Linked DNA regions of Homo sapiens. The protein of the gene in region 2 purifies or fractionates together with the protein of the main gene of each other region. This does not show direct contact. Each region holds a gene or a part of one and is shown on either strand. Other genes may lie near its edges.

Region 1 (3,815 bases), on a different chromosome or scaffold from region 2:
TCAAGAAGTCCCTCAAATTTTTTTTTTTTTTTTTTGAGACAGAGTCTCGCTCTGTCACCCAGGCTGAAGTGCAGTGGCGCGATCTCGGCTCACTGCAAGCTCCGCCTCCGGAGTTCACGCCATTCTCCTGCCTCAGCCTCCCGAGTAGCTGCGACTACAGGCGCCTGCCACCACGCCCAGCTAATTTTTCTGTATTTTTTAGTAGAGACAGGGTTTCACCGTGTTAGCCAGGATGGTCTTGATTTCCTGACCTCGTGATCCACCCACCTCGGCCTCCCAAAGTGCTGGGATTACAGGCGTAAGCCACCAGGCCCGGCCCCCAGTCAAACCTTCTTGAAGGTTCTTTAGCCATCTGTCTCTAGGCCAATCCAAGGTGGAGGAAACTCACCGCATGGGAGTCGAGGTCAATAAAGCCATAGGTATGCCCCATAGGGCCTGTTCTGTTCTTGATGATACGGACGTTGGCAGTAGTAAGGCGGACATAGGGCTCCAGCACTTCCACTATCACCTCAGGTGGTGTGGAACGATAGATACGCTTTAGCATGATAGCTGAATCAACCATAAATGGGAGAAGGGCAACACAAGGGAGAGAAAGATAAATTTTTGAAGTCCCAAGAATCTGACTGTCATTTTTTACTATAGATGCTACTAGCAAGGCTGGTTCTGTAAAAAAATGCTAAACAAATAAATACTGCATACTTTTCTTCACCAATACTTAGAAATCTAAAATCATGCCTTACTGCATTCATATAGCAATTTACTATTTGAAGGGCATAGATTCCTTTAAGCAGTACAGGAAGGTCCACAGACAGCAATGGCCTCTGTCATCAGGTCATGCACAGATCTCTCAGGGTACTGGAAAGCAGATAGCTCCCGGACATAACATTGGCCATCTATGCTCCATTGTGATGATCACAGTCTGGTATGTGCCCTGACAAACTACTTACTTTTGCTCTCTCCATCCTGGCGTGTCTCTCCAGACCATGACTCCCTCTCTCGGTCTCTTCGGAAAGTTGGCCCTTCCCTTCGAGAAGGAGGCAGATACCTTTCTGCTTCTCTCTTTTGATGTCCTAAGCGTGACTCTTGGCCTTCTTCCCTCTTCCTGGGTTCAGGTTCCTTATCAGCTGGTCTTAGGGGCTGGTTGGGCTGTTTTTCCAATGGTGCTGGTATGGATGTTTTCTGAGGCTGAGGGTAGGTTATTAATTCTTGCTTGGCCTCTGTCACTAGTGGAACAGAAACAAAGAGAATCTCTAGAAAGCTTTATCAAAAAAAAAAAAAAAGAAAAAACACTGCTACTGTAATTTCTCCTTACCTGCCAGCAAATACTCATACTGGAATGCCTTTTTTTTTTTTTTTTTTTTTTGAGACGGAGTTTTGCTCTTGTTGCCCAGCTGAAGTGCAATGGCATGATCTTGGCTCACTGCAACCTCTGCCTCCCGGGTTCAAGCGATTCTCCTGCCTCAGCCTTCAGAGTAGCTGGGATCACAGGTGCCCACCACCACGCCCAGGTAATTTTTTGTATTTTTAGTAGAAACGAGGTTTCACCATGTTGGCCAGGCTGGTCTCGAACTCCTGACCTCAGGTGATCCACTTGCCTCGGCCTCCCAGAGTGCTGGGATTACAGGTGTGAGCAAACACGCCCGGCCTGGAATGCTTTTAATATTATCTCAGAAATATCTAATAAAAAGTCCTCTGACAGTTCCTGACAAAATATTTTAAGTGAAGCTGAGACAGGACATGAAATAGTTCACAGAAGAAACTATCCAAGCATTTAAAAAATGTAATCTTATGAAATCTCTATATCACCTACTAAACATTTAAATATAACAAATCCTTCATGACACCTTGAACCTGACTATCATAATCAATGATAACAACACATCTGGGGACAAAATTACCGAAGATATGGCCCTTACTTAAGGTTTAGTAGAAACACATATCCCAAACACACATCTAGAAGCCTTGCTTCTTCCAGTGTTACAGTGCTCAAACAGCTACTCATATCCTGTAAGACCACAGGCCCTCCTCCAGTGAAGCTAGGAACAGACCCTATCTGCACGTAGCTCCTTTATATGCAAATAAACATAATGGGCAGACGTCCTTCAAAATATAAATGATTTATTTCAAATGTCCTACTACAGCAGGATAATTTGTCTTTATAGTTTGTTTTATAATTAGGGGCACATTCTTGTAACTAATTCATTCTTGGAGGGTTCACTGGAATCCATGTGGCTCAAAAAGAGGTATTATATGAGAGCAATATAGAGATTACATAATAGCAGTGACAGGTTTCCAGATTAAAGCTGTCTCATCTTAGTGGTATGGTGCCCAGTGGTTTTCATACACTATCTATTCATGGCCGGGAGCGGTGGCTCACGCCTGTAATCCCAGCACATTGGGAGACTGAGGCGGGCAGATCACGAGGTCAGGAGATCGAGACCATCCTGGCTAACACAGTGAAACCCTGTCTCTACTGAAAATACAAAAAATTAGCTGGGCACGGTGGCGGGTGCCTGTAATCCCAGCTACTTGGGAGGCTGAGGCAGGAGAATGGCGTGAACCTGGGAGGCAGAGCTTGCAGTGAGCCGAGATTGCGCCACTGCACTTCAGCCTGGGTGACAGAGCAAGACTCCGTCTCAAAAAAAAAAAGAAAAAAAACAAAAAACTATCTATTCATTTGCTGGAATAGCTTTGAAAAAAAGTGTTTCTTGTGGGGGGAAAAAAACACAACTTTGCCTAACCTGAAGTGACCTAACAAGCAAAAATCTCAGTTGTTCATCCTCCTTCCCACATTTTGGTTTGGTTTCTAGAACATACACAGCCTTCCCCTAAAGATTTTCAGAACACCTGCCTTTCAGTCTTCACCAGAGTAAAATCTCCACAAGAGGACAAAAGCCCACCTAAGAAACTCCTTGTAGGCACATTAAACTCTAACCTTGCAACAAACAGAAGGCTACCTGAATCCCTGCACTGAACTATATTTTATGGTCATGCTGTGGCTTTCCTTAAGGGATGACTACAGGACTGTTGTTATGGATGCATGTGTCTGACTCTTCGAAGTTGCCTACCTGAAATTTCTCTAAAGAAATTTACATTAAAGATAAGTGCTTGAGAAGCTGGTAGTTTTATTCCTCTAAAATAATAAAATGTTCCCCACATCCTGATTATTTTCTCCTATTTATGTTTTTACTGTTATTTTAACAAATGTTTTTCTCTTGAAAATCCTGAAATGCTTACAGAATGTAAAAGAGAAAACAATAGAGCAAATGATTCCCAATAACTTCAAAGAAGTAGGAGTGGGAGAAAGGTTTGCCACACAGACTGATGTCATAAAGACTCTTTTTCAACCTAACATCCTTAATCCTTAAATGTATTCCAAATAACAATATACTGACCTCTGCTCAGCTGCCCACTTAGCCACTTTAGCCTAGGAGCCCACAACCCTATCTCTTTCCTCTGGTGAAAATAAGATCTGAAATCATTTACTAACAGGTTACGTTAAGTTGGGCACCAAACTGCAATTTTTTTTTTCTCACTCTGTTGCCTAGGCTGGAGTGCAGTGGCGAGATCTCAGCTCACTGCAACCTCTGACTCCTGGGTTCAAGCGATTCTAGTGTCTCAGCCTCCCAAGGAGCTGGGATTCCAAGCATGTGCCACCACACCTGTGGCTAATTTTTGTAATTTTAGTAGAGACAGGGTTTCGGCATGTTGGTCAGGCTGGTCTTGAACTCCTGACCACAGGTGATCCACCTGCCTTGGCCTCCCAAAGTGCTGGGATTACAAGCGTTAGCCACCATGCCTAGCTCAAATTGCAC
Region 2 (4,490 bases):
TAAAACTTGGGGTGCAAAGCTCTTGATTTAAACATATGAGAAACTACTATGTACCAAAAGGCTGCAAACTCAACCACCTATGGAAGGCAGAGGCAAGAAACCTAAGTGAAGGGCCCTGACCACATGTAAGAATGGGGTGGTGGTGGCAGTGTTTGGTTGGCATTCTCCTTTTCTAAACTGAGTCACCTTCCAATCCCAGGCACCTGATGCCAGGAGGAAGGAAAACTGTGCCAAGTGTTGCCAGATATAATTTAAAAGAGCTAGAAATTGAAATTTTGGGGGTGAAATATGTTGATTTAAATAAGTGAGAAACTAATATTTTTAAAAAATAAGCCAAACAAATTATTTTCATAGGACAAATTCATCCTGTGGGCTGCTGGAATGAAATCTCAGTTTAATATGGCTTTAATATTGCTTCAGGGTCTTCCTAATCTGGACCCATCCACCTCTCTGAGCACCCACCCAGCTCTACAGACACAGTAGAGCTCTCCACCCTCAGATACAAAGTAAATACTTCCAGAGCTACACGCCCAGACCACTTCCTAGTACTTGGAATCCTGATCCCCATCTTAGTGGCTTCTTTGTCCTGGACTCACCTAAATATCACCTCCCTTAGAAGGCACCCTCTACGGCTTCCTGAAGGAGGAATCACTCCTTCTCTTGGCCCTGAAGCACACGAGGCCTCACCACCTGTCCTGTAATGACTTGTCCCCCATATCCCTCTGGGGCTGCAAACTAGGCAGCAGAGACCAGGGCTTGGTCTTCTATGCTTACGTGCACAAGGCTTTGTGGGAACATTTTTACTGTGCTTTCAAAACGTTTGTGTGTAAAGTGCAAAACCCTTCTGGATTTGATTCACAATACAGAACATTAGTTTAAAATTTCTCCCATTTCCTGACATTTTGAAAGTAAAAGTCAACCACTTAAAACTTCAATTACCATCACCTGCCCATAAAGAAAAACAGCAGCCCAGTTTTAGGGAGTGTATTCTATGAGATGAACTGGCCTACCCTTTGTCTTTCTTTGATTTTTTGTAGATTTGGCCTTTTCAGCATCTGCTTGACCAGCTGTAGGTTGATCCTCTTGTTCTTCCACATTTGAATTTGAAACTGTGAGAACAATTTCGTCACTTCTTTCATCTCCTGACATTGTTTCCACAAAAAAGAGCTGCTCCTTTGTTCTTTCAGCCAATAACTGGTTCTTCTCCTGCTCTTCCTCGAGCTAATAAACAACAAATATTCAAATATGATACTATTGATTTCAGTATAATTAGACTTTTGCCTGGATGAAGCACAGAATACAAAAAGAAAAGCCAAAGTGGAAGATTATGCATCACAATGTTAATTATTTCGCATCAGGGTTGTGGCAGTGAAACTTAACACTTTTTTTTAAAACATAATGCGCCTTACACTATTCCAATTAGCACCACTTTTAAAACTCTTTTTTAAAAAAGAACCTAAGAACTCTCAAGATTTTCCTGGGAAGTATTTGTACTGTCTTTAATTTGCAACTGCAAAATACCTTGTCCAGACATAATATTGCATAAAAGCCGACTTGAATTTTTTCTTTTTCATGTAAGGGGTTGTTTATTAAAACCAGCTGTACCTTGATCAGTCCAGTAGTTTCAGCCAGGCTCACCGCTAACTTACTGTCTTCACTGGCCACCATCACATTCTCCTCTAGAGCGTGGAACTGCAACACCTCCATCTCTTGCGGGGAGTACAGCTCTTGCTGGATACTAATGGCCACACACTGCTGCAGGCTCTGCCGGGGCCCTTCCTCAAGCCACAGCAACCCAGGGCCAGGCTGTTGCACCACCACCTGCACCCCTTCTTGCTGCTGTATGCTCAGCAAGCTCATATCCTGCAACTCCACAGCTTCAGAAGTGAAGTGCACCGTCTGCAGGGTCAGGATGTACTTCTCGCTCTCCTCCGAGGGGGCCAGCACCAGCTCCACTTCTTCCTCCAGGACGCTGTCCTGGAAGGCCCCAGAGGTACGCTCGGCCTCCAACTCACTAGGGCTCCGATGGTCTTTCTCTCTGCACACTCCGTCTTTTTCCTCCTCCTTCAGGCCTTTTTCCGGCATCAACTCGAGTTCTTTGATCTTGGTGAATTGCTCAGAAAGGACAGAGATCTCAGTGGCTGCCATAATGACTTGGCCTGTTTGAAAAATAAGCAAGCGGTTTCCATAGGGGGGAGAAGGGGGTGGTATGAGGAGGGATGCGGGGGGTGCTGGAACCTAGCAGGCTTTGGAGTTGAAACAAGGTCTGGCCTCAAAAGGTTTTGGACTTAGTAGGGTCAGAACAATGCTGATCTGGCTTGGGTCTAGGAGGGGGTCAAGGCTAAGCAGGATTTAGGCTAAAGCAGGATTTTGTACAAAACCCTAGAACGAACAGGTTTGGGCCTCAGCAGGCTTAGGGCCAGCACACATCCTGCGCCTGGCAAGGTTCCGCCTGAGCACACTCTGGCCCAGTGCATATCCTGGGCCTAGCAAGGTTAGGCCTGAGCCGGTTCAGTCAGTGAACATCCTGGGCCTAGTAAGGTTTGGGCCCAGCAGGCTCTCGGCCAGTGCATATCCTGGGCCTAGCAAGTTTCAGGTCCAAGCAGGCCCCGGGCCAGTGCACACCCGGCGCCCAGCGAGGTTCGGGCCCGAGCAGGCATTCCCCTCGTGCACGGTTCTAGACCTAGCACCCTCAGAGCCAGGCAGGCTTTGGGCCTAGTGGCCTCGAGCCCACCCAGACTTGGCCAAGCAGCCCTCGGCCAGACCAAGCACACTCCCTCGGAGGCCTGGCAGGGCCCCTGCTTTACCCTGCCCCCCACGCCCCGCCCCGACCCGACCCTCCCAGGCAGCCCCTCAGCGTCTGCCGCCCGCCCTTGGGCCTTTCCGGCCAGCCCCTCCCTCCGCCCACGCCCAGAACAGCCCATGCTCTTGGAGGAGAGCAGGTGGGCTTGACCGGGACTGGCCCCTCACCGCGGAAGGCGTGGCCGGAATGCTCGGCCCACTCCGTCTTTGGCTTGTGGGCTCTGCCTCGTGCACCGCGTGCTGCAGCCCACAGCCGGCCGCCGCCGGGCTGGCGCGAGAGTGGAGGGTGGCAGTGCGCAGGCGCGGAGCGGAAAAGAGGGGGCGTGAAGGGGGCGGAGCCAGGCAGGGTTGGGGGAGGGGGTGATGTACTGTGGGGGCAGGGGGGAAGGGGAGTAGGGAGGGGGAGGGGGAGCACGGATGAGGAGGACCCCAGAGGGGGCACTGGTGGACCTGGGGGGGTGGATGAGGAGGGGAGGAGGGTCCCATACAGGGCACTGGGAGACCTGGGGTGGGGGTGGATAAGGAGAGGAGGAGAGCCTGCAGGGCACTGGAAGACTGGGTAGTGGGGGAGCGCCTAAGGAGGGGAGGAGGGTCCTGCAGGGGCACGGAAATACCTTGGGGTTGAAGTGGATGAGGAAGGGAGGAGGGCCCCGCAGGGGGCGCTGGGAGACCCGGGGGGGAAGTAAGGAGGGCACGAGGGCCTGCAGGGGGCCTGGGAGATCTGAGGGGGAATGGATAAGGAGGGGAGGAGGGCCCACAGGAGGCACTGAGATACTGGGGGGAGGGGTGGAATGAGGGGGGGAGGGGTGGAATGAGGCGGGGAGGATAGCCCTGCAGGGGGGCTGGGAGACCTGAGGGGGGTGGTGGGTAATGGATAAGGAGGGGAGGGGGGCCTGCAGGGGGCCTGTGACACCTAGGGGAGGGGAATGGATAAGGAGGGTAGGAGGGCCAACAGGAGGCACTGAGATACCAGGGGGAGGGGTGGAATGAGGAGGGGAGAGCCCTGCAGGGGGGCGGGGAGACCTGAGGTGAGGGTAATGGATAAGGAGGGGAGGAGGGTCTGCAGGGGTTCTTGGGAGACCTGGGGGATGAATAGGAGAGGACAAGGGGAGGAGGGTCTGCAGGGGGCCCTGGGAGCCCTGCGGGGGGCGAGGGGTGGGGGAATGGATAAGGAGGGGAGGAGGGCCTGCAAGGGGTGCTGGGAGACTTGGGGGAGGGGAATGGATAAGGAGGGGAGGAGGGCCTGCAAGGGGTGCTGGGAGACCTGGGGGAGGGGAATGGATAAGGAGAGGAGGAGGGCCCGCAGGAGGCACTGAGAGACTGGGGGGAGGGGTGGAATGAGGAGGGGAGGAGAGCCCTGCAGGGGGCGCTGGGATACCTTGTGGGGGAATGGATAAGGAGGGGAGGGGGTCCTGCAGGGGGCGCTGGGAGACCTAGGGGAGGGGAATGGATAAGGGTGGGAGGAGGGCCCGCAGGAGGCACTGAGATACTGGGGGGAGGGGTGGAATGAGGAGGGGAGGAGAGCCCTGTAGGGGGCGCTGGGAGACCTTGGGGGGAATGGATAAGGAGGGGAAGAGGGCCCTCAGGGGGCGCTGGGAGACCTGGGGGGGAAATGGATAAGGAGGGGAGGATGGCCGCAAGGGGCACTGGGAGACGCTGGCGGGGAATGGATAAGGAGTGGAGGGGGG
Region 3 (3,387 bases), on a different chromosome or scaffold from region 2:
CCTCCCAGGAGCCCATGGAGTGACTGTGGACAAATAGTCCAAGGGACCAAGGGAGGCAAGAGGAAGAGCCAAGGGTGACCATGGACCACGGGGCTCCACAAGGGATGGGATTACATTTCACTCCTGGAAAATAAAGCCTGGCACGTTGATGCTTGAAGCTCAAGAATGAATAGCAGAGGGAGAGATGTGGACTCCAGCTCACACAGCCAGCCAATTTATTCCCTCCCTATTCTAATTTCAACCCTGGGCTGAGCTGCTCCATGGCAGTGACAGTAGAGGCAAGCAGTGATTCACAAAGACCAACAGTTGAGACAGAACTGGAGGCCAGAGTTCCCACATGCAGCTTCTCATCTTGAGGATGGAGCTTGCTAGCCAGGCATCAAAGTTCCTCACACAACGGGCCCCTGCGCTGAGCCTGTTCTCTCACTCAGAAAATGAAGGTAAATGAAAGTACCTACTCCATACGGCTCGTTATGACTGTACGACAAGTTTCCGCACATAAGATACGGATACCACCACCTAACCCCGCCTGGCACCTATTAAGCCCTCAATAAACGTCAACTCTATAATCTCTTAGGCTTTCTCTTTCACCGTCACCACCCACTTCTTGCAGGCAGATTTCACAAATGGATTCCCTTTACTCTGCAATCTTCCAGTGGGCTTCTCTGCCCCCCATCTGCCTGTGCTGGATGGCCCCTGAGCAAAGCACTGTAATAGGTGCTAGGAAGGACACGAAGAAGTCTATGTTCAAACATGTTCTTGCCCTCAAGGAGTTTACATACAAGAAACCAGGTTAAAATTATGTGAAAGGGGCAGACAGGCCAGGAATACGGGGGAAATTAAGCAATTTAACTTTTTATTTAAAAGAGATGGGGTCTCTCTGTTGCCCAGATTGGTCTAGAACTCCTGAGCTCAAGTGATTCTCCTGACTCCCTAAGTGTTGGGATTACAAGCATAAGCCACCACGCCCAGCTGCAATTTAATTTTAAATCAGAGTTCAAAACAATAGAATTTATGCCACTGTGTGTGCCTGCCAAACGAACTGAACAGACAGTAACTGCTCTAATAGTTCAGAGGAGGGAAAGATCACCTCAGGCTGGGGGCGAGGGATGGGCTTAAGGAGGGGCACTATTTGAGCTGAGTCTGGAAAAACAGCCAGAATTACAGGAAGCAGAGAGGCTACCAGAAAGTGGGTGTAGACCAGACTGAAAGGAGGCAGCATTCTCCTCCTTGGGCCCTGGGAGCTCCTGGGGAGTAAGACTTGAGTCTCCCCCATCTCTGCAACCCCACTGCAGGTACATAGTAGTGGCAGTTTGTGACATGAACGGGCAAACAGCCAGGGCAGATGCAGCTAACGGGTAGCCCCCAGTGCTTTTTGCACCTCTCCAAGATTGGGTGACTACCAGTCCCCTGACCCCTTCACCTACCCAATCCTTTCCTGTCCTCGGTTCTTTTCCACTGTCTCCACCCTGGGAAGTGGCATCAACACAGGAGGGCATTGTGCTCCTTCAATGTGGTCTATTCATACACATATAGCCCCTTTCCACTGCTCAGTGTCGGTGATGTGACTCAGAAGGGCCACATTTTCGCTGGGTCCCATCTAAAGGCCTGACACTGCAGTGAAGGGCATGCTAAGTCTAGGCACAGGTCCTGGCAGCAGGAAGGAGACAGAGCCTCTCCCAGGCACACATCCCCTTCTCTGTTTCTGGAAGAAGACTAAGAAAGGAGTGGGAAATCGCAGGGAGGTCCAGGCCCAGGGCTAATAGGTGGATGGATCTCCTGGGTTCAGTTCCTTCTCTGAGCTGGCTCCCACTCCTCTTCTGGGATGGTGAGGCCCAGGAGACTACATGGGCCACCATGCCCCTGCCCCAATGCTGGAGCATCAGAGAGAAAGTTGGGGCTGGGTTTTGTTGGAGATGATTCAGCATGTTCAGCCAGCAGGCCCTCCATGGAGGATTCATGTCCAAGGAGGGTGGAGGTCATCCTACTGACATCTTGCTCTAGAGGTCCAATGTCCTGCTGTCCGTCTACAGCTTGCTCCAGAGCTGGGATCACACAGTCCACCTCTCACTTCGGGCCTCCACAGTCTGCACCAGGCCTTCACCCAGCACAGCAAAGTCCTCCAGGATTGCTTCAACATTGGGCACCATTACTAGCTCCCCACCTCGAGACATCACCATGCGCCCCTTTGTGCTGGAGGCCTGGGGAAATCAGAGAAGAGATGTGGGTTGAGTGTCACAGCGGCACACCCAGAGACACCAAGCTGGGTACAGAGTGGGGGTGGTGGGGATAGAAACACAAGCCCATACACTCCGCACCTGACACGGGTTTGCCCATAGGACAGACTACACACAGACATGCATGCCCACACAGAACCACGTGCACACACTCAGGAACACAGCTGTCACCAGCCAGCACACCTTGAAGGGCTGCGGCTGGAAGCTGGTGGGCTTCCAGAGGACACCAATCACCTCTCCACCATGCTGGTCATAGAAGAAAAGGGCCAGATCCCCAAAGGCCTCCTAGAAAGGGACAGAACAGAGAAGATTATAGGCAGGCATTTAAGAGCTCCTCCACAGCCTCAGCTTCACCTGGAAGTCCCCTCCCCAGGTCATTCAGCTGTTTAGGACCAACCCTGAGCTGCGTCAGATAGAGCTGAGGAGGATCATAGCCCAGCACGGGCATCAGGGATGAGGGCCCCGGCTGGCTGAGCAGGCCCCGGCAGAAGGAGGCAGCTGGCGAGTCCACAGCCTGGCGGTGCCGCGGGATATGGCGAGGAGACAGGCGAATCAGCACGTCGTAAATGTCCAAGGGCGGCCGGAACACTGTCTAAGGAAGGGGAGAAGGAGGGGTCAGCAGGACCCCCTTGACTGAGGAACTGGACCACAAACCTCTCCACACGCCCACCTTGGTTTCCTCCTTCCATCTGACCACCCTCTATGGGCCCACCTGCCCATTTGAAGACTGAAGCACCAAGACCCACAGAGCAAACAGCTGTTGCATAGCCCGGCAGAAGGAGCACAGGCTAGAAACAGGAGACCCAGATGGAACCCAGGTTCCCCAGGCTCTGCCACCCCAGGCACCACAGCAGCTTCAACACCTCCTCTGTTCAGTCTCACCAAACAAGGGGACCGGGTCTCCTGTGAGATCCCTGAACGCTGAACTTCCAAAGACAGAATCCCCAGAGGCCCTGGAGTCACTGCTGGTCAGAAGCTTACCCTGATGTCCCCAGGTCCCCGGGGATCCATGAGCTGCTTCTCTAACATGGGCAGGGCTTCAGCTGCCAGGACCACAAGCTGCTGCAGGATCTGCGGGGTACAGACACATCAGACTGGAACTGAAGTGGGTCTCTCCCAGGTCAGGCTGGGCCTGCTTTTTCCTTGGGAA
Region 4 (4,511 bases), on a different chromosome or scaffold from region 2:
CTAGCAAGCTCCTGCACCCAGCTTTAGCTGGAGAGAAAATGTCATCATCTGTCACCCCTGACTTTTGCCACATTTAAAGACAAATCCAGACAATTTGTGTTTCAGGTTATCAACAGTAAAAAATCCAAGAGGCCTAGCAAAAATCAAGATTCACTTCACAAATAGGGCATTCAACAGATGAGGTGCCAGGCACAGTGGCTCATGCCTGTAATCCCAGCACTTTGGGAGGCTGAGGCAGGTGGACTGTTTGAGCCCAAGAGTTTGAGACCAGCCTGGGCAACATGGCGAAACTCTGTGTCTACAAAAAATACAAAAATTAGCCAGGTGTGGTGGCACACGCGCCCATAGTCCCAGCTACTGGGGAGGCTGAAGTGGGAGGATGTTTGAGCCTGGCAGGCCAAGGCTGTAGTGAGCCATGATCATACTATCGAGTCAGAGTGAGACCCTGACACACACACACACACACACAAAAAAAAAAAAGGAGGGAGAAATTAAGAAGTGGTTGTTTTACTAGAAGCTGAATGGAGAGCAAGGTACTCCTGTACAAACTCTAAGGCAGGGATTCCAAGCAGGCGGGCGGCTCCCTGCCCACAATGATGGAGCAAAACTCTTCTAGTAGTGGTCTAAGCAAATGGTTTTAAAAGTTAATCTGTGAGGTTAAGAACTGACTTCTAAGAATTGAGTCTCAAACAGAAAAGGTAAGACTATATAAGGCAAGAAAGACCACACACTTACTTCCTGGACCTAAAGCTACACAGAAACCATCGTTGTTCACCACCCCACCCCACCCAGGCCACTTCCCCACCCCATCTCCTTCTGACTTTGTCCCAAGATAGACTGGACATTTTCAGAAGTTCTTGAATCTTAAAACGCCTTAGGTTCTTTTTACGTATCTGGAGATGGAACCAAATAAACGTTGTGTGACTCTTCCTTTCTCTCCATACTCATACTAGTTTATTGGGGGAAGGAAGGAAATATACTTGGAAACATCTTAAAAGGCAACATCTTTGAAATTCCTGCTCTGATAAGCCCTGAAGAATAACTTCCTCTCTTTGTAAGACCAAGTAATACACTTCTCACTAGGGTTGATCTTGATCTAGGAAGAGATGTTTTCTTGTAACCCTTACAACACATCCAATGAGATGATGGAGCTATCCTATACCAACTGTAGCAGAAAGTACAAGCACCTGGAAGGCAGAAGACAAGAGCTAGTCCCAGTCCTGCAGGCCTATAGCTGGCATTCTTTGAGGAAGACTTGCTTCACTTCTCCAGATCTGTTTTGTCATTTAGAAAATGAAGGGTTTGGGCTAGATCATCCTTAGAGTCCTTACAACTCTAAACTTCTATGTGATGTTCTTTCTTATATGTGATAACAATACCTATTAGAACCATTCTTTGTACTTTGAAGATCTAGGGATTAACAGACAAGTACAGCAACGTGTACTAGCAAAGATGACAGGCCCAAGACACGCTAAAACTGTAGGATTTAAAATACGCAAATGTCTAACAGTTGGCAAAGTATGTGACCAAAAGGTGAAGGAAATCCTGATATCAACTTACACTTTTAAATGCTCTGGAACCAATGAGAACAAATACATTCATCACAAGTACCAGCTGCTCTTCTTACTAAATTTAACAATAACATGAATTTTAACTCAGTGATTTCCCCATCACCAACCCCGCCAAACACCTGTAAATATTTAGGAAAAACAAGCTAAAAAAATTGAATCTAAAAGGCAGGAGAACAAATCATTGCAAATCATTGTGGTGACGGACTGCACTTCAGTTGCAAGATGTTCTGGCTGGATACTAACTGGAGAACGCAAGGCAGCAGATGCAACCCATGGACAAGTTTGAGGTATTTAATACCAAGGGCTGGCAAGTCTGACCCTGTAGTCAAAGTCAAGATTGCCTCTCTGCCTACCAGGACCCCAAAACAAAGTTCCTTTCACTACCCACGAATAAACGGGGGTGGGGGTAGCAAGCCGTTTCCTTTTTTCGTGGAAAGAGCTGCAAAGAGTTTTGTCATGCAACTTGGTTTGGTGCCTGTTAGTGTCAATGTAAGAGCAGCAGAGTCCGCGAAGGTGGCTGTTACCATTCCACAGACCTGCGGCGAGGACTGTCAATCCGATTCAGCAAATAACCCCACCTCTCCAAGCCAGGACTCCAGAGCTGCCCTGTGTGGTGTCTCAGCAAGGAAAGCCAACAAAGCTGGTAGACACAGGCAGACCGTAGCCCACCGCCTGTGAGTGGAGGCTCCGAGCCGACTTCACCTCCTCCTCAGAGGGACCGGCCCGATCCGAAAGGGCGGTCTCCAGGGGTCCCCATCCCGCACCACGCACACAGCCTGGCGCAACTAAAGAGGAAGTCGGATGTCACATCCAACGGATAAATAAAGACAGCCCGGCCACACAAGAGCCGCATTCTGGGCAGGACTCCTGCTAGGTTTGGGGAGGGGTCCCAGTCTGCGATCCTTTCTCCCTCTTCGTGCAGCGTCCTCCTCCCCGGGGCCCGGGCCGGCGGCGCCCACGCAACGCGGCGCGGTGCGAGTCCCGAGAGCACCTCGAGCCCCCGGCCCCCTCCCCAGCCCCGCCGGGCCCGCGGCCGCCGCACTCCCGCACGCCGGCTGCCCAGCGCCCACGGGCCCTGCCCCAGACTCGGGCGCGCAGTTCCGACGGCCCAGGGCGGGGACGGCGCGGCGGAGGGGAGCTGCCGCCGCGGGCTCTCGGAGGCACCGGCGGCCGCACACAGTCCTCCCCTTCGCCGCGAGTAAACAGCTCGCGGGCGCGCTCCAGCCGCGCCCCCATCCCCCCGCCGGGCTCCGCGCCGCCCCGCGCCCGCGCGTCCCGCCCGCCGGCGCCGCCGCCCGCTACCTGGTCGGTGAGTTTGAGCACTGCCATTCTTCCGCTCCTTCGCGCGCACACACATGCAGGTCCCCGGCCCGCAGATGTCACGCCGGGAGCCGGGGAAGCGGAAGGGATTGCCAGGAGAAGGGAAAAAATCTGGCTCCCGAATTTGACAGCCCTCCCCCTGCTCCTCCTCCGCCGCCGCCTCCTCCCGCCGAGAGGCTGACACTGGCTAGTGGGGTTTGCAGCCGAGCCCGCCCGCCTTTCCACAGGAAGTACCGGCTGCTGCCAGCCGGGCCGCCACTGACATCACCGCGCGCTGGCTCGCTCGCCGCCCGCCGCCTGGGCCGACGCTGCCTCCTGCCGCCCGCAGCCGAGCCGCGCAGCCCGGCCCCCGGCGCTGCCCCCGCGCCCGCACCGGGCCGCCGCCTGCCTTCCGCACCTGCACGCGGCGCCCGGCCGGGCCGGCCCCGGGCCCTGGGCGGATCGCGGGCCTCCCTGACGGGTCTCACACATATGGGTGGGGAAGCCCGCGGGGACACACCCCGAGGGGGCAGGAAAGGCTCTCACTCACATGCCGTCCACTTTAACCGGGGAGATGGGGTTACGCCCCCTTCCCCTAACCCAGAATCAGGTGGTGGCAGCGCCCCGAAGATCCCAGGGACCGCAATTATGATGCTCCCTTTGTTTAATGCCAGGAGGCAGCGGACACATTGTGATTCTTTACAGGGTGTTTGCCAAACATTTATGGGTGGAGGGAACAGAAGCTCTGGCCCTTCCACCTTGTTCTCCAGCCACTTTCCAGCTAAACACACACACACATATGCACACACACATACTATTGTTAAATTCAAACACCCTGGGTTTGGTTTTTGCTGGTGGGGGTGGAGTGGAGTTCCTGGAGAAGCAAAGCAGTCCTAAATCACCGAGTTGATGGGTCTTTTGGGTGTTCCCACCAGTCCTTACTGATCTCTACAAAATCCCAAGTTACCAAGCTCTTCAACAAATAGAAGACAGCTGTCAAACACCATGGGCTACAGATACAACGGGCATATTCGTAAGCATAGTAGCTGTTGATAGTTCTGGAATTTGGAGCAAACACTTATTCATTGAACAGCTATGTACTGAGTCCCTACCTTGTCAGGCACTGGCTAGGCACGGGAATAAACGGAGAGCATAAATAAGATAACCTGCTCTCAGAAGATGCCAACATAAACCGCATAGTCTCTGCTAATGAATGTAATTACAAACTGAGATAAGGGATCTCAAGGGAAAACATGCTTCTGAAGTGAACCCACAACAAAGGAATCAGACCAGACTGGTGGGTGAGGGCAGGCTTCCCTGAGAAAGTGACAGGAGTTGAGATCTGGAGAAGGGAGAATTAAGTAAGCAAGTGGAGAGGAAGTGCTCCCAGGCAGCCCCATGTGCCCCTGGCAGGCCATAGAGCAAACCTGTAGGGCAGCATTGAACAGCTTTGAAGAGCAAACTAGAGCTACAGAATTCTTTGGTCAAGACCAAACATCTGCCTCTACTGTATATTCACAAACCAAATGTCCATTCTTCCTCCCTACTCTTAGAACCTCCCCCAAAGATTCCACATGAGACAGGAGAGAAAGGAGCATTAATATCCTCACATTTACCATCCAGCCACTCTGGTTGTCGAAG
Region 5 (3,815 bases), on a different chromosome or scaffold from region 2:
CTCCCAAAGTGCTGGGATTACAGGCGTGAGCCACCGTGTCCGGCCTTAAGCCACAGACAGTTTCTACCCAGACAGGACAAATGGATTTGCTCCTTGCTGCTTGACAGTCATCACAACCTTTCCCTGGACCGGGCACAGGGCAATCTGGGAGTGAAGACAATACACAGGACTCCTGTGTCACGGAGCCTGCTGTCTAGCACAGAAGTTCAGTAACTAGGGAAATGACATAGCAAAAGGCAAAGCAATTGGAACAGGGCAATGGAGGCTCGGGGTGTTTACAGAGATGTGATAACCAGATTAGAGAGGGAAGAGGGTTCCAGGCAGGAAAGACAACACATGCGGACAGCACAGGCTACTAGAGAATGGGGCATTTGGGGACCTGAAAGAGCAGTGTGGCAGGAGAGCTGCTACCTTCAATGAAGCCCACCCACCTTTGCAATTTGCGGAACTCCATGAAGATCTTATTGCGTTTATATTTCATCTTTCCGTGAATGCACATAATCTTCACGCCCTTCACCAGCACTTCCAGAGCCTTCCCATAGTATTCCACACAGGCACAGGTGCTGCAAGAGGGACAGAGGGCTTAGAGTCATTGGCCACTTTGGTCCTTCTACAACCGGGAGAGGGGAACAGTGAGCAATAGCTGCAGCAGACGCAACCTAACTACAAGCCCTCCCTAGGGGAATGACAAGGAAAATGGCAGTGGAAATCATCCACAACTGAGTTCTCAATCTGTAATCCTCTCAGCCAATGAAAGGCCAATCTTTTGACAAAATCCCTTAAACATGAATTAAAACCCCCAAGGACATATTTTACTGTCTAAAGATGTTCTCACGGGAAATCTCCCTGACCCCGAGAAAGGAATTAAAGTGAAACAGTCATTCAGAACAAAAGCAATGACATCTTAGCCACAAATAGTGTTACAAGATTTAAAAACATTTCTGCTTTCCGTTTAGGGAACTGCTTCTTTCCCAATTAGCAGGATTCCCAAGGGCTCAGCAAATAACCCAAGCTAGGCCAGTCAGATCCCTTCTCCCAGATATTTGGGACTTGGAGCTGAGTCATCCAAAGACAAAAAGGGGTTGGCAGTCATCCCAATAAAGATATGCCCTAAAGAGATGGCCCATGAACTCCTGCCAGGGAGCCTCCTTCCCTGGGAGCTGGACACTCAACATTCTCTGAATCTGTGAGCTCCTTACCCGGCACCCTTCTAATAAAGTTCACCCTGGACCCTTTTCCTTAACTGGAAGCATTCCCAAGTGACTTCCCATCCTTTTGCAGATGAGGGAACTAAAACTTACCAGAGACACAGAGTAAGTGGCAGAACCAGAACCCAGGTCTAATGCTCCTCCCACTAGACCAGACTACTGCACTACTGCATTCCAGTTTGGGCTAACTCTTGTCTACTTCAGTCCCTCCACCTGTGCTGTGACCGCTCTTTTCCACCTTGAGTCACATAGTATGTAATGAAGTGGTGTTTCACACACTAAGCCTCACAACCCACAGACCTGGTGGGTTCTGAAATCAATTTAGTGGGTCTCGACCAGCATTTTAAAAAAATTAACAGCTGGAGTAGAACAGAATAGAAAACATCCCACCTAGCAGGGTGCAGTTTCATGAAAACCTTTGTTTTATTGTCTTGTTTGGGTGTGTACCAAATTGTACTTCTTACTGTGGGTCATGGTCAATATTGCATTTTATTTGTAGGATAACAGATAGAAAAGAAATTATAAATATAAATATATAAATAAATATAAAATTATTTTTTATGTACTACTAAAGATCAACACATTTATCTCTGGAGAAAAGGGGAAAAGAACCAACCAGTCCAAAGAACATATGCATCTGTCCCTACGCTGCCTTCTGACCACAGGACAAAACCCCACTGTGGCGGACTCCATGGGTGGCTGATAAACACTATTCCCAACCACTTCTTGCTTCACTGGCCACTACTACAGAGGCAGAAAAGCTGCGCACTCATTTTCTCTGCTGCTCTTGAAGTGAGGGGCCACCACGTGACCCACTTTTGGCCCCTAAGATGAATTCACAGCTGAAGTCAACTAGGGCAGAGGGGTTTCTGAAGAAGCTCTTTGCTCTCCTGATTAAAAGGCATGGATATAGCTAACATTGCCCTAAGCCCCCTCTGCCTTTCCCCCCTTATCTTTCTTCAGTGGAGACATGACAGGGTGTAATAGTGGTCATCCAGAATCCATGAGGTGACACATAGGAAGAGAAGACCAATCACATCAACATTGACCTTGACATGACTGACACATGAAACCCATGTGAGAAACTGCCTGCCTTTGGACGACTTTTTACGGGAGAAAAATAAAGCCAACCTTGTTCGGACAACAAAAGTTGGGTTTTCAGTTATTTGCAGCCAAAAGCATTCCGGAGAGAACCATGCTAGATGGAATCCAAAACCCAAAGGCCGCATGCACCTGCACATTCTGGCTGAATCCCTGATGCCTCTACCACAGAGACCAGAGGAGTACCTGAAGAAGACCAGGTGTTTCTCCTGCTTATGATTGCGAAGAAAATGGACCAGCTGATTAAATTTCTCATCTGCCTTGCATACCTGCAAAATAAAAAGGGAAACTAATAAAAAACATATTTGGCAATAATAATCCCCATGGCTATTTTCAGTTTCAGCATTAAATTTTAAGGAATGTCATTTCCCCCATGGGTAGGACAGACTTTAGTCGGAATGTTAACTGGTCTACCTAGCTCAGAATAAATATCAACATGTGCTGCTGCCTGTAAAAGTTAATTTGTATGTCACAAAATCATATAGCTCAGAGAAACACAGTCATCCAACAGGCAACAGTTCCCAACTCCCAATCCCAATATACATGCCAGCCATTACACCATCTCCAGGGTAGATTTTTATTTATTTACCTTTTTTTTTCTTCTTTTTTTTTTTTCAAGAGACAGACTCTCAATATGTTGCCCAGACTGGTATCGAACTCCTGGCCTGGCATCCGGCGATCCTCCCACCTCAACTCTAAAGTGCTGGGATTACAGGCGTGAGCCACCTCGCCCAGCCAAAGGATAGATTTTTTTTTTTTAAATGCAGATTCTTGGGTACGACATACAGATTCTGATTCAGTAGGTCTGAGATTGAACCTAAGAATCCCTATTATTTAAGAGTTCCCCCAGGAAATTCTGATGCCAAGTTCAGAAGTCACTGCTCTAAGGTGAATACTGATTTCCAGAAAGCAATGTACATCATTATTTAAAAGGCCTCCATGGACGCAGACCCCACTGCTTTTCTTCATAATGCAATCAAGTCCTCCATTCAAACTCCCAAATTAGAGACATTAAATTCACCTGAATGCATTCATCCTATTTTTACCAAAACCAAATCCCCAGTTTGGAATTTTTTCTCATGTACTCAGCCATCTCTAAATGCAAAACGAATGCAAAATAACAGAATGCAACAGTAGCCACAGTGTGTCCAAAGCTAACAGTAGTACAAGTATCCCTCATCCAAGGTCCTTAGGACCCGAAGTGTTTTTTGGCTTTTGAATTTTTTCAGATTTTGGAATAGCTGCACTATACTTACCAGCTGAGCATCCCTAATCTGGAAATCCGAAATCCAAAATGCTCCGAGTATTTCCTCTCAGCATCATGTTGGCACTCAAAAAAGCTTCAGATTTTGGAGGATTTTGGATTTTGGAATTTCAAGTTAGGAATGCTCAACCCATACTTATTGTGTACTAAGCACTATCATGAACATTTTTGCATGGATTAATTAATTAATCCTGCAGCAACCCTACGAAGCTGTATACTACTGTGGCCCCCATTTGACAAGT
Region 6 (3,815 bases), on a different chromosome or scaffold from region 2:
GCCTTGGGCTCCTAGGCTCAAGTGAGCCTCCTCCTTCAGCCTCCCGAGTAGCTGGGGTGACAGATGCGTGCCACCACGCTTGGCTCAAGTCTGTATTTTTAGTTTGTTCTACCACTCGGGCACCAATTCTTCCAGTACTTTCTGAACCTTGTTCCATGGCACACTTCCAGGAGATTTTAACAGCCCCGAATTGAAACTGACTTTGTTGGGAAATTCATTCCTACACCAAGTATTTCTTGAATGCCAAGTTGCACTGATTTGCCAAGTGGCAAATGAGATGAGCCCTTACCGAGCTCACTGTCTACCTGAAGGCAAGTGAGAAATAACAATACAGTAAGACGTGTTGTGAATGAAGAAGATGGGAGAACAGAAAGCAAGGGGACCTAAGCTGCCCTGGAGGTTTAAAGTGAAGCCTGAATTACCCAAGCCAAGGAGAGGATGCAGTGGGCAGAGGCAAAGATGATTCCACAAACGGGAAAAGTACATGTGGAAGCCAAAGGGTTTTAAAGTACAACATCCACCAGACATGTGGGTCCACAGGTTAAGAGTATTAACTCTGGAGTCAGACTGTCCAAGTTCAAATCCTAGCATTAGGACCCTAGAGCAGTCATCTCACCTCTTTGAGCCAATCTATAAAAAAAGAGACACAAATACTGTCTGTCACACAGGGCTGTGGAGAGGATTTAGGGGAATAAGCCATATAAAGACTGGTGCCGACAAGGCACAGTGCTCACACCTGTAATCCCAGCACTTCTGGAGGCTGGGACAGGAGGATCACTTGAGGTCAGGAGTTCAAGACCAGCCTGGCCAACATTGTGAAATTCCATCTCTACTAAAAATACAAAAATGAGCCAGGCGTAGTGGTGGGCACCTGTAATCCCAACTACTTGGGAGGCTGAGGCAGAAGAATAGCTTGAACCCAGGAGGTGGAGATTTCGGTGAGTGAAGATCATGCCACTGCATCCCAGCCTGGGTGACAGAGTGAGACTCTGTCTCAAAAAAAAAAAAAGAAAAAAGAAAAAAAAAGACTGGTGCCTGCCTCACAGGTGAATGCCCAGTAAACGGTAGCTTTTCATAAGTCTAGTACAAACCATTGAGGGAGAGAGTCAGTGGCAGACTAAAGGCTCTGAAGAATCCCACAGGTGAATTTTATTTGAAGTTTCCCATTTGCAGTAGAAACATTCCTGTCACAACAACTGTATTCACATCAGGTGAACCTGAGGCCCAGGGCCCAGGTGGGAAGTGCAGTCTGGACACATCACATCAGGCTCTTGTGGTCCTGCACTCCAGACCCCAAACGTGGCTGAACATGTGGCTCCCTTTTTTACCTCCTCTATGGGGCTCAGGCTGAATTGGCGTTCCTTCCTCCGGGTTCCCCTGGCCTGGCCCTCTGCCCACTGTGCACCACTGTCTGTCTGCCTGCTTGTCTGTCTCCATCCTCCCAGGTCAGGATGCCCACTCTGAGGTAAACATAGGCTTTGCGCCCACAGGATACTTGGCAAGTGCCCAATGACTTCTCCCTTTTTCTTGGCACCAGGGACTTGGTACTCAGACCCAGCCAACCAATCTCATCAGGCCTGGGTCTCCCCTCCCAAGCCTATTAGGGCACTAGATCCCCTCACCTCGAAGCTTCTCGCCAGGTTCCAAGTGGCAGGAGAACCCGAAATCTGAAAGTCGGATCTGCATATTGTCATCTAGGAGAATATTCTCGGGCTTCAGATCTCGATGCACAATGTTGTTGGCATGGAGAAAGCTCACTGCTTCCAGCAGAGACCGCATGATGGACCTGGGGGAAGGGGAGGCGGGTGCAGTCTCCTCCTCGGCTCCTCCCTGCCCTGTCCCACCCCCTGCTCACCCCTGGGGCTTCAGGCTCAACCCTTACCTGGTTTCCTTTTCAGAGAGGGCCACCTTCTCTGTGAGATAGTCAAACAGCTCTCCCTTCCGCATCCTAAGGGAAGGAGGGGCATAGGAGGCAGCTGCATCCCACAGTGGGGGCTGAGAAAACAGACCAGTGCTCATACAAAATATTGTGGAAGAGGCCACTAAAGATAGATCTCTGCAGACAAACCAAAGGGTCTAGAAACACAGCACTCCAACAAGGCAGTTTGGCCTGGTGTGTTGGCAGCTGAAATACCTGCATTATGCCATGATGGGGCAATTATGGCAAAAATAAGAGACTTCTTGTGACAATATAATTTATAGGAGGTTCTTGTTGAGAGTAACTATGCCTGAAAAAGGCCTCTCAAAGTGAATCTATAAAGAAAATGGACCAAAATTTCAGTTTTTTGTGGCACAAAGGTTGAATAGGACCTTATTTTGAAGTTTCGTCTTTAAAAGCTGAGGTTATAATTATGTGTCAATTAAAAATAATACTTTCAAAATTGAGGTTATACTTGCACTCTGCATCAGTCCTCAAAGTAACATTATCAGGTGCTGTTTTGGGGAGTGTAGGCACTCTGCATGGCTGCAGGATGGCATAATAGACATCCTTACGTCCCCTCTGACTTTTGCAGAGGGCCATTTCTGTAAATATATCGAAGCCTTCATGAATTTTTTCCAAGGGCCTCTTTTAAATCTTTGGAATTCAAATCATTCTCTTTCAAAATACCTTTGCAGTTGGTTTGCATTATACCAATTGCATCGGACATTCAGATTCTGACCAGAAAAAGAACTGATGGGCAGAGACAGACACCAGAATAGTTAGCGTGTTAAGCAGCGCGAGAGGCTGGTGAGTGAGGATCTATTTTCTAAGTGGTCAGTCCACTGCTGAACACTCTCTTTTTTTTTGGAGATAGAGTCTCGCTCTGTCACCCAGGCTGGAGTGCAATGGCACGAACTCAGCTCACTGCAACCTCCGCCTCCCGGGTTCAAGCAATTCTCCTGCCTCCCGATTAGCTGGGATTACAGGCACCGACCACCATGCCTGGCCAATTTTTTGTATTTTAGTAGAGACGGGGTTTCGCCATGTTGTCCAGGCTGGTCTTGAAACTACTAACCTCAGGTGATCCACCTGCCTCAGCCTCCCAAAATGCTGGGATTACAGGCATGAGCTACCACGTCTGGCTGGTCACTATTACTTTATTTTTTGAGATGGAGTCTCACTCTGTCGCCCACGCTGGAGTGCAGTGGCGCAATCTGGGCTCACTGCAAGCTCCGCCTCCCGGGTTCATGCCATTCTCCTGCCTCAGCCTCCCGAGTAGCTGGGACTACAGGCGCCCACCACCACGCCCGGCTGATTTTTTGTATTTTTAGTAGAGATGGGGTTTCACTGTGTTAGCCAGGATGGTCTCGATCTCCTGACCTCATGATCCACCCGCCTCGGCCTCCCAAAGTGCTGGGATTACAGGCGTGAGCCACTGCACCCAGCCACTAGTCACTATTAAAGAATTTGCCTCAATCATGGCACCAAGGGAGAAGGCCAGAGCCATGCGCTAGCAGGCAGGCCCAGGTGATAGAGAGCCCCAGCTGGAACAGGAAGGTGTGAGCAGGATGGGTCCAGCCCACTGCACCACAAATGCTGGGCCATACATGGAGGTGGGGAGGAGGCTTCTCAGATGGTGGCAGGGAGATACTCACAGGTCAAACACCAGGAACATGAAGCTAGAAGACTCGTAGGAATCGATGAGGGTGACTAGGGAGAGAGGAAGAGAGGCAGAGAGACAGAGATGGAAAGGAGTGGATGCACATTAACGGGGCTTGGCCACCCTGGGACAGCAGCGGGCTGTTACTGGGAAGAAAGGAGAACCAGAGGAGGCAGTGGGCGCCCAACGGATGGCCACTCTTTAGTGGAATGAAGGGAGGAGAGGTGTGGAGGC
Region 7 (3,815 bases), on a different chromosome or scaffold from region 2:
CTTTCTTACCCAAGCCTCAGCAATATAATGGTCTTTGGCTCTAGCTATCAGCAATAGCTGCAAGAGCACAAATGATCCCTTCCTAGTCCTCTAAAGTGTCAACCTCCATTCTTCAGTGCTTCTGAATCTAGCATAAGACCAAGCTTTCCGTCCGGCCCACCGGAAGGCAGTGGCTGCGCCGGCACCTCCCCGGCTCTGGCCTTCTAATGTCTCACACACAGAGGCTCTGCTCTAAGGCCAACACTTCTGGCTCTCTCATCTTGGCCACATTTGGCCCACCCATGTTGACTGCTTTCTCGTGTGTGATTCAGGGAAACAGCTCCATAGCCTCAAACGTTAATATCTGAAGATTTAGATCCCAGGCATTGTGGTGGTGTGCACACCTCTAACCTCATTTAATTAGGCACAGATGACCACATTATGCAACTTCCCAACAGCTTTCTCCATCTACCCGTGCTAGTCCAGCACCTCAGACCACATTTACCCCAAAGTATCTAACAGGCCACACTATAAAAGATTTTAGCTTTCAGTCAGACAAATAGCTTTCAGTCAAAACGATTAGACTGAGGTGGTAGAAGCTCACCAAAAGGGGAAAGGGAGTTTCCCAATAACATGTACGTTTGCTGGCCCTAGCAGTCTCAGAGGCCTGTCAGCCTGCAGGTCCCGTTCCAAGCACAGGGCATGCCAAGAGCAGCCCACTGAGAGCAGAGGAAGAGGGCTCAAACATTTGGGACCCAGACAATATATTTAGGAGGTATGGCTCCAATAGGGAGGGAGGAGGAAAACCACGTTCCGGGCATCTCCCTGTCTATCCAAATACACTTGCATAATGTGCACTTGGAGGAACCAAGCAGATGGGCTTCAGCACAGACTTCACTGCCACACCACACCAGGGAGAATAAGTTAGACAGAAACAGGCAGCATTCCCAAAGAGAGAAGGCTGACGCAGAAAAGTTCAAAGATGAGACTATGTAACACTGGGTAACACAGGAAAACACTAACTTCAGCTGTTTCAAAGACAGACAGGATTCCAAGCCAAAGCTTGTATGACCAGATTTAAGAGTAAGAACTGCGCTTCAAAGAAGAGTTAGAAATGTCGTTGTCATAGGCGATCAGGATAACAAGAGGCTTCATTCTCCCTCGCCTCTGTGACGCTCTTTCTGGGTGATCCAAGTTTTGTTTTTTTTCTAGTTGATTATTTCTCTTTATTTCTGTATGTGTGTGTGGTTTTTGTTTTGTTTTGGAGACAGAGTCTCGCTCTGTCACCCAGGCTGGACTGCAGCGGCACCATCTCTGCTCACTGCAACCTCCGCCTCCTGGGTTCAAGGGATTCTCCTGCCTCAGCCTCCCAAGTAGCTGGGATTACAGGTGCCCACCACCACGCCTGGCTAATTTTTGTATTTTTAGTAGAGATGGGGTTTCACCACGTTGGTCAGGCTGGTCTCAAACTCGTGGCCTCAAGTGATCCACCAGCCTCAGTCTCCCAAAGTGCTGAGATGACAGGCGTGAGCCACCACGCCTTGCCTGGGTGATCCAAGTTTTAAGAACCAAGGTAGTCCTGCTGTGCAGGCAATGATTCTAGCCTCTGACCCTCAGGCGGAAAACTAGGTGTTACCAGAAAGTGTTTAGGGAGTGGACTATGAGATGCTCACAGTCCTAGCAGAGGCAAGGAAAGAGAAAATGTGGTTTTCTTAGCTGAAAACACTAAAATTCCACCCCCACAAGGGGTATTTATGAGTGACAGGGGTGGGGCCTGGACATAAGCAATTTTCCCCTGGATCTAGCCACAGGATTACTGATGGGTGATGATCTGCTAGGCCGCGTAGCTAAGCAGCTAAGGAGACAGGAGGCCAGGGCTTTAAAAGTTAGAGCATGCTCAACAGCAAGTGCTAAGCATTAGCATTCTTTGATTTGAAAGTCAAGTGTTGAATCCCCCCGGGCAAGCCAACAAGGCAGATGGAACCACAACCACCAGGCGTGTGTGAAAAGTGGGGAGAAAACCTACCACACTCTTGTCACGTGAGGGTATGCTCTGTGGCTTGCTGGAGGAGCAGCAGAGGGAGGTCCCTGCCAGCTGCAGCTCTCAGAGGAAAAGAAAGATGTGGAGCACTGGTTCCAGGGAAGAATGTTCTGAAGAGGGACAGAGGTCAAGGTGATAAGGCTGTTGCTTTAGAAAGGAAGGTGTTTCCTATGCTTTTGCCTTTACATTCTGTGCAAATCTCTCTAATATGGCTATGACCAAAATGGATTAACATCAAGTTCCAACAGCAGACATTTACAAAGTATCCTTTGTAAAAGGCTAGGTAATATTAATAGCATTCAAATAGGAGTAGCAGGGCCAGGCACTTACTCCCAGTAGGAAACTAATCTCAATCGACTTGGTATAGGATTGAGTATTGTCCCGCTCCTCTCCTCATCATTGTAACTCTAAAAGTGTTCCTTCCTTCGAAGGTAGATGGCACGAAAGAGACTGACAAAAGCTCCCAAAGAACTGGGTCACAGAGTTTTCTGAGAAGATGAACACAGCAGAAACACTGCAGTTGATGCCATGGGTCTGCTTCCATCCCCATCAGTGTCTTCATGGACCCCATTGGGTCCAACAAGAAACTCCTCAGGGAGTAAGAAAAGTTAGGTTCAGATCTCCTTCCCGCAGCCACAATGACACTGGTGACAGCAGTACGTTCAGGGGATTTGTGACTGTAACTCTGCTTTTCGCTTTTCCTTAAGGAAATCAAAATTAAGATATTTCTCCACAAATTACCCATCAGCGTGGCTCATTTCGTGAAGGACTTGGCAAGCCACATAGCTTCAGAACGGAAGGCAAATGCTATAGTATACCGGGAAGAAAAGGCCTCTGCGTATTACACTACCTCCTTCTTCTGCCCACTCCTCAGGGGCAAAAAATTAGTTCTACATTTGAAAGACGAATTTTTTAAAAAATTAATGAAAATGACAATTTCCCTGTTGAGATCACGTGAACATAAACAGTGAAACAAAGCCCTTGGGGGGGGGTAAATGGATGCAGAGCAGGCTTCTAAGGTGCAGTCCCCCTCCTTCGTGTGGGTGAGTGATGTCACTTGCAGGACAGGCTGTTTGGGTTCCCCCAGTCCTAGGTCTTCTTTCCCCAGTTGTCTTTCCTTTGTAGCTGTCCTTAGGTTTAGTGTTGGGGTCACAATTTGGAATTCAACAGAGAGCTTCTGAAGGTAATGGGACAGAAAGGGAGGACAGGAAAGGAGGGAGGAAACATTAGTCTTCTTCATCCTCACTGATATCATAGGCTGCAGCCTTGTGCCTGGAGAGATTTGCTGGGGAGCAAGGTGGGGAAGTCTTGCCGGAGAAGGGCCATCGGAAAGAGGGGGAGGGGGAGCGCTCGCGAGTAGGGCTGCTGCTGGGGCTCTGCTTCGGGCTGATGGCCTGCAGCATCCGGCCCTTCCCCTCTTTCAGCATATGTTTCTGCAGAAACCGAAAGGAAGAGTCAGAAAAACACCGTGGATCCTACTTAATCATCACTGAAGCATCTAGGACTGGGATAGTCTATGCTGTACTATTTATTTAAGGGTTCTCCCCTGCTGTCATCACCCGGGAAATTCCCCATTCTTCCTCAATAATCTAGTCTAGGATTATTCTAATTTATCCAAACACCTTCACAGACAGATCCTTCCTGATATCTAACCTAGGACTCACTTGCTCAATCTTTTATTTGGTTGAAAAGACTGCTACTCCTCAAAGACAGAATTCCCACCTTACCTGGGGTTCCTGCTGCAGCTACTTGTAGTGGAGGCTGCTTTCTTTTTATTGTTCTTTATTCTTTCCTT

What was found.
Region 1: the proteins of CTCFL (region 2) and RBM6 purify together in Homo sapiens (affinity purification with mass spectrometry; one large-scale study listed by BioGRID and IntAct). This does not show direct contact.
Region 3: the proteins of CTCFL (region 2) and NOL6 purify together in Homo sapiens (affinity purification with mass spectrometry; one large-scale study listed by BioGRID and IntAct). This does not show direct contact.
Region 4: the proteins of CTCFL (region 2) and ANKRD44 purify together in Homo sapiens (affinity purification with mass spectrometry; one large-scale study listed by BioGRID and IntAct). This does not show direct contact.
Region 5: the proteins of CTCFL (region 2) and DDX55 purify together in Homo sapiens (affinity purification with mass spectrometry; one large-scale study listed by BioGRID and IntAct). This does not show direct contact.
Region 6: the proteins of CTCFL (region 2) and PHKG2 purify together in Homo sapiens (affinity purification with mass spectrometry; one large-scale study listed by BioGRID and IntAct). This does not show direct contact.
Region 7: the proteins of CTCFL (region 2) and PCYT1A purify together in Homo sapiens (affinity purification with mass spectrometry; one large-scale study listed by BioGRID and IntAct). This does not show direct contact.

Annotation. Positions count from the first base shown.
Region 1 is NC_000003.12:50,055,136-50,058,950, reverse strand, and holds part of RBM6 (RNA-binding protein 6), read right to left. Parts: intron 1,224-3,815; coding exon 948-1,223; intron 550-947; coding exon 389-549; intron 1-388. UniProt on the Homo sapiens protein: Specifically binds poly(G) RNA homopolymers in vitro.
Region 2 is NC_000020.11:57,522,058-57,526,547, forward strand, and holds the start of CTCFL (transcriptional repressor CTCFL), read right to left. Parts: upstream 3,084-4,490; 5' UTR 2,971-3,083; intron 2,641-2,970; exon of another isoform or gene 2,160-2,640; 5' UTR 2,149-2,159; coding exon 1,606-2,148; intron 1,222-1,605; coding exon 1,011-1,221; intron 1-1,010. UniProt on the Homo sapiens protein: Testis-specific DNA binding protein responsible for insulator function, nuclear architecture and transcriptional control, which probably acts by recruiting epigenetic chromatin modifiers.
Region 3 is NC_000009.12:33,460,613-33,463,999, forward strand, and holds the end of NOL6 (nucleolar protein 6), read right to left. Parts: intron 3,309-3,387; coding exon 3,219-3,308; intron 2,830-3,218; coding exon 2,635-2,829; intron 2,523-2,634; coding exon 2,421-2,522; intron 2,202-2,420; coding exon 2,052-2,201; 3' UTR 741-2,051; downstream 1-740. UniProt on the Homo sapiens protein: Part of the small subunit (SSU) processome, first precursor of the small eukaryotic ribosomal subunit.
Region 4 is NC_000002.12:197,307,705-197,312,215, forward strand, and holds the start of ANKRD44 (serine/threonine-protein phosphatase 6 regulatory ankyrin repeat subunit B), read right to left. Parts: upstream 3,077-4,511; 5' UTR 2,901-3,076; coding exon 2,874-2,900; intron 1-2,873. UniProt on the Homo sapiens protein: Putative regulatory subunit of protein phosphatase 6 (PP6) that may be involved in the recognition of phosphoprotein substrates.
Region 5 is NC_000012.12:123,611,933-123,615,747, reverse strand, and holds part of DDX55 (ATP-dependent RNA helicase DDX55), read right to left. Parts: intron 2,628-3,815; exon of another isoform or gene 2,579-2,627; coding exon 2,496-2,578; coding exon of another isoform or gene 2,442-2,495; exon of another isoform or gene 1,783-2,441; intron 564-1,782; coding exon 432-563; intron 1-431. UniProt on the Homo sapiens protein: Probable ATP-binding RNA helicase. Has ATPase activity and is involved in the maturation of precursor large subunit rRNAs.
Region 6 is NC_000016.10:30,751,365-30,755,179, reverse strand, and holds part of PHKG2 (phosphorylase b kinase gamma catalytic chain, liver/testis isoform), read right to left. Parts: intron 3,632-3,815; coding exon 3,577-3,631; intron 1,949-3,576; coding exon 1,883-1,948; intron 1,787-1,882; coding exon 1,623-1,786; intron 1-1,622. UniProt on the Homo sapiens protein: Catalytic subunit of the phosphorylase b kinase (PHK), which mediates the neural and hormonal regulation of glycogen breakdown (glycogenolysis) by phosphorylating and thereby activating glycogen phosphorylase. May regulate glycogeneolysis in the testis.
Region 7 is NC_000003.12:196,235,442-196,239,256, forward strand, and holds part of PCYT1A (choline-phosphate cytidylyltransferase A), read right to left. Parts: intron 3,454-3,815; coding exon 3,247-3,453; 3' UTR 1-3,246. UniProt on the Homo sapiens protein: Catalyzes the key rate-limiting step in the CDP-choline pathway for phosphatidylcholine biosynthesis.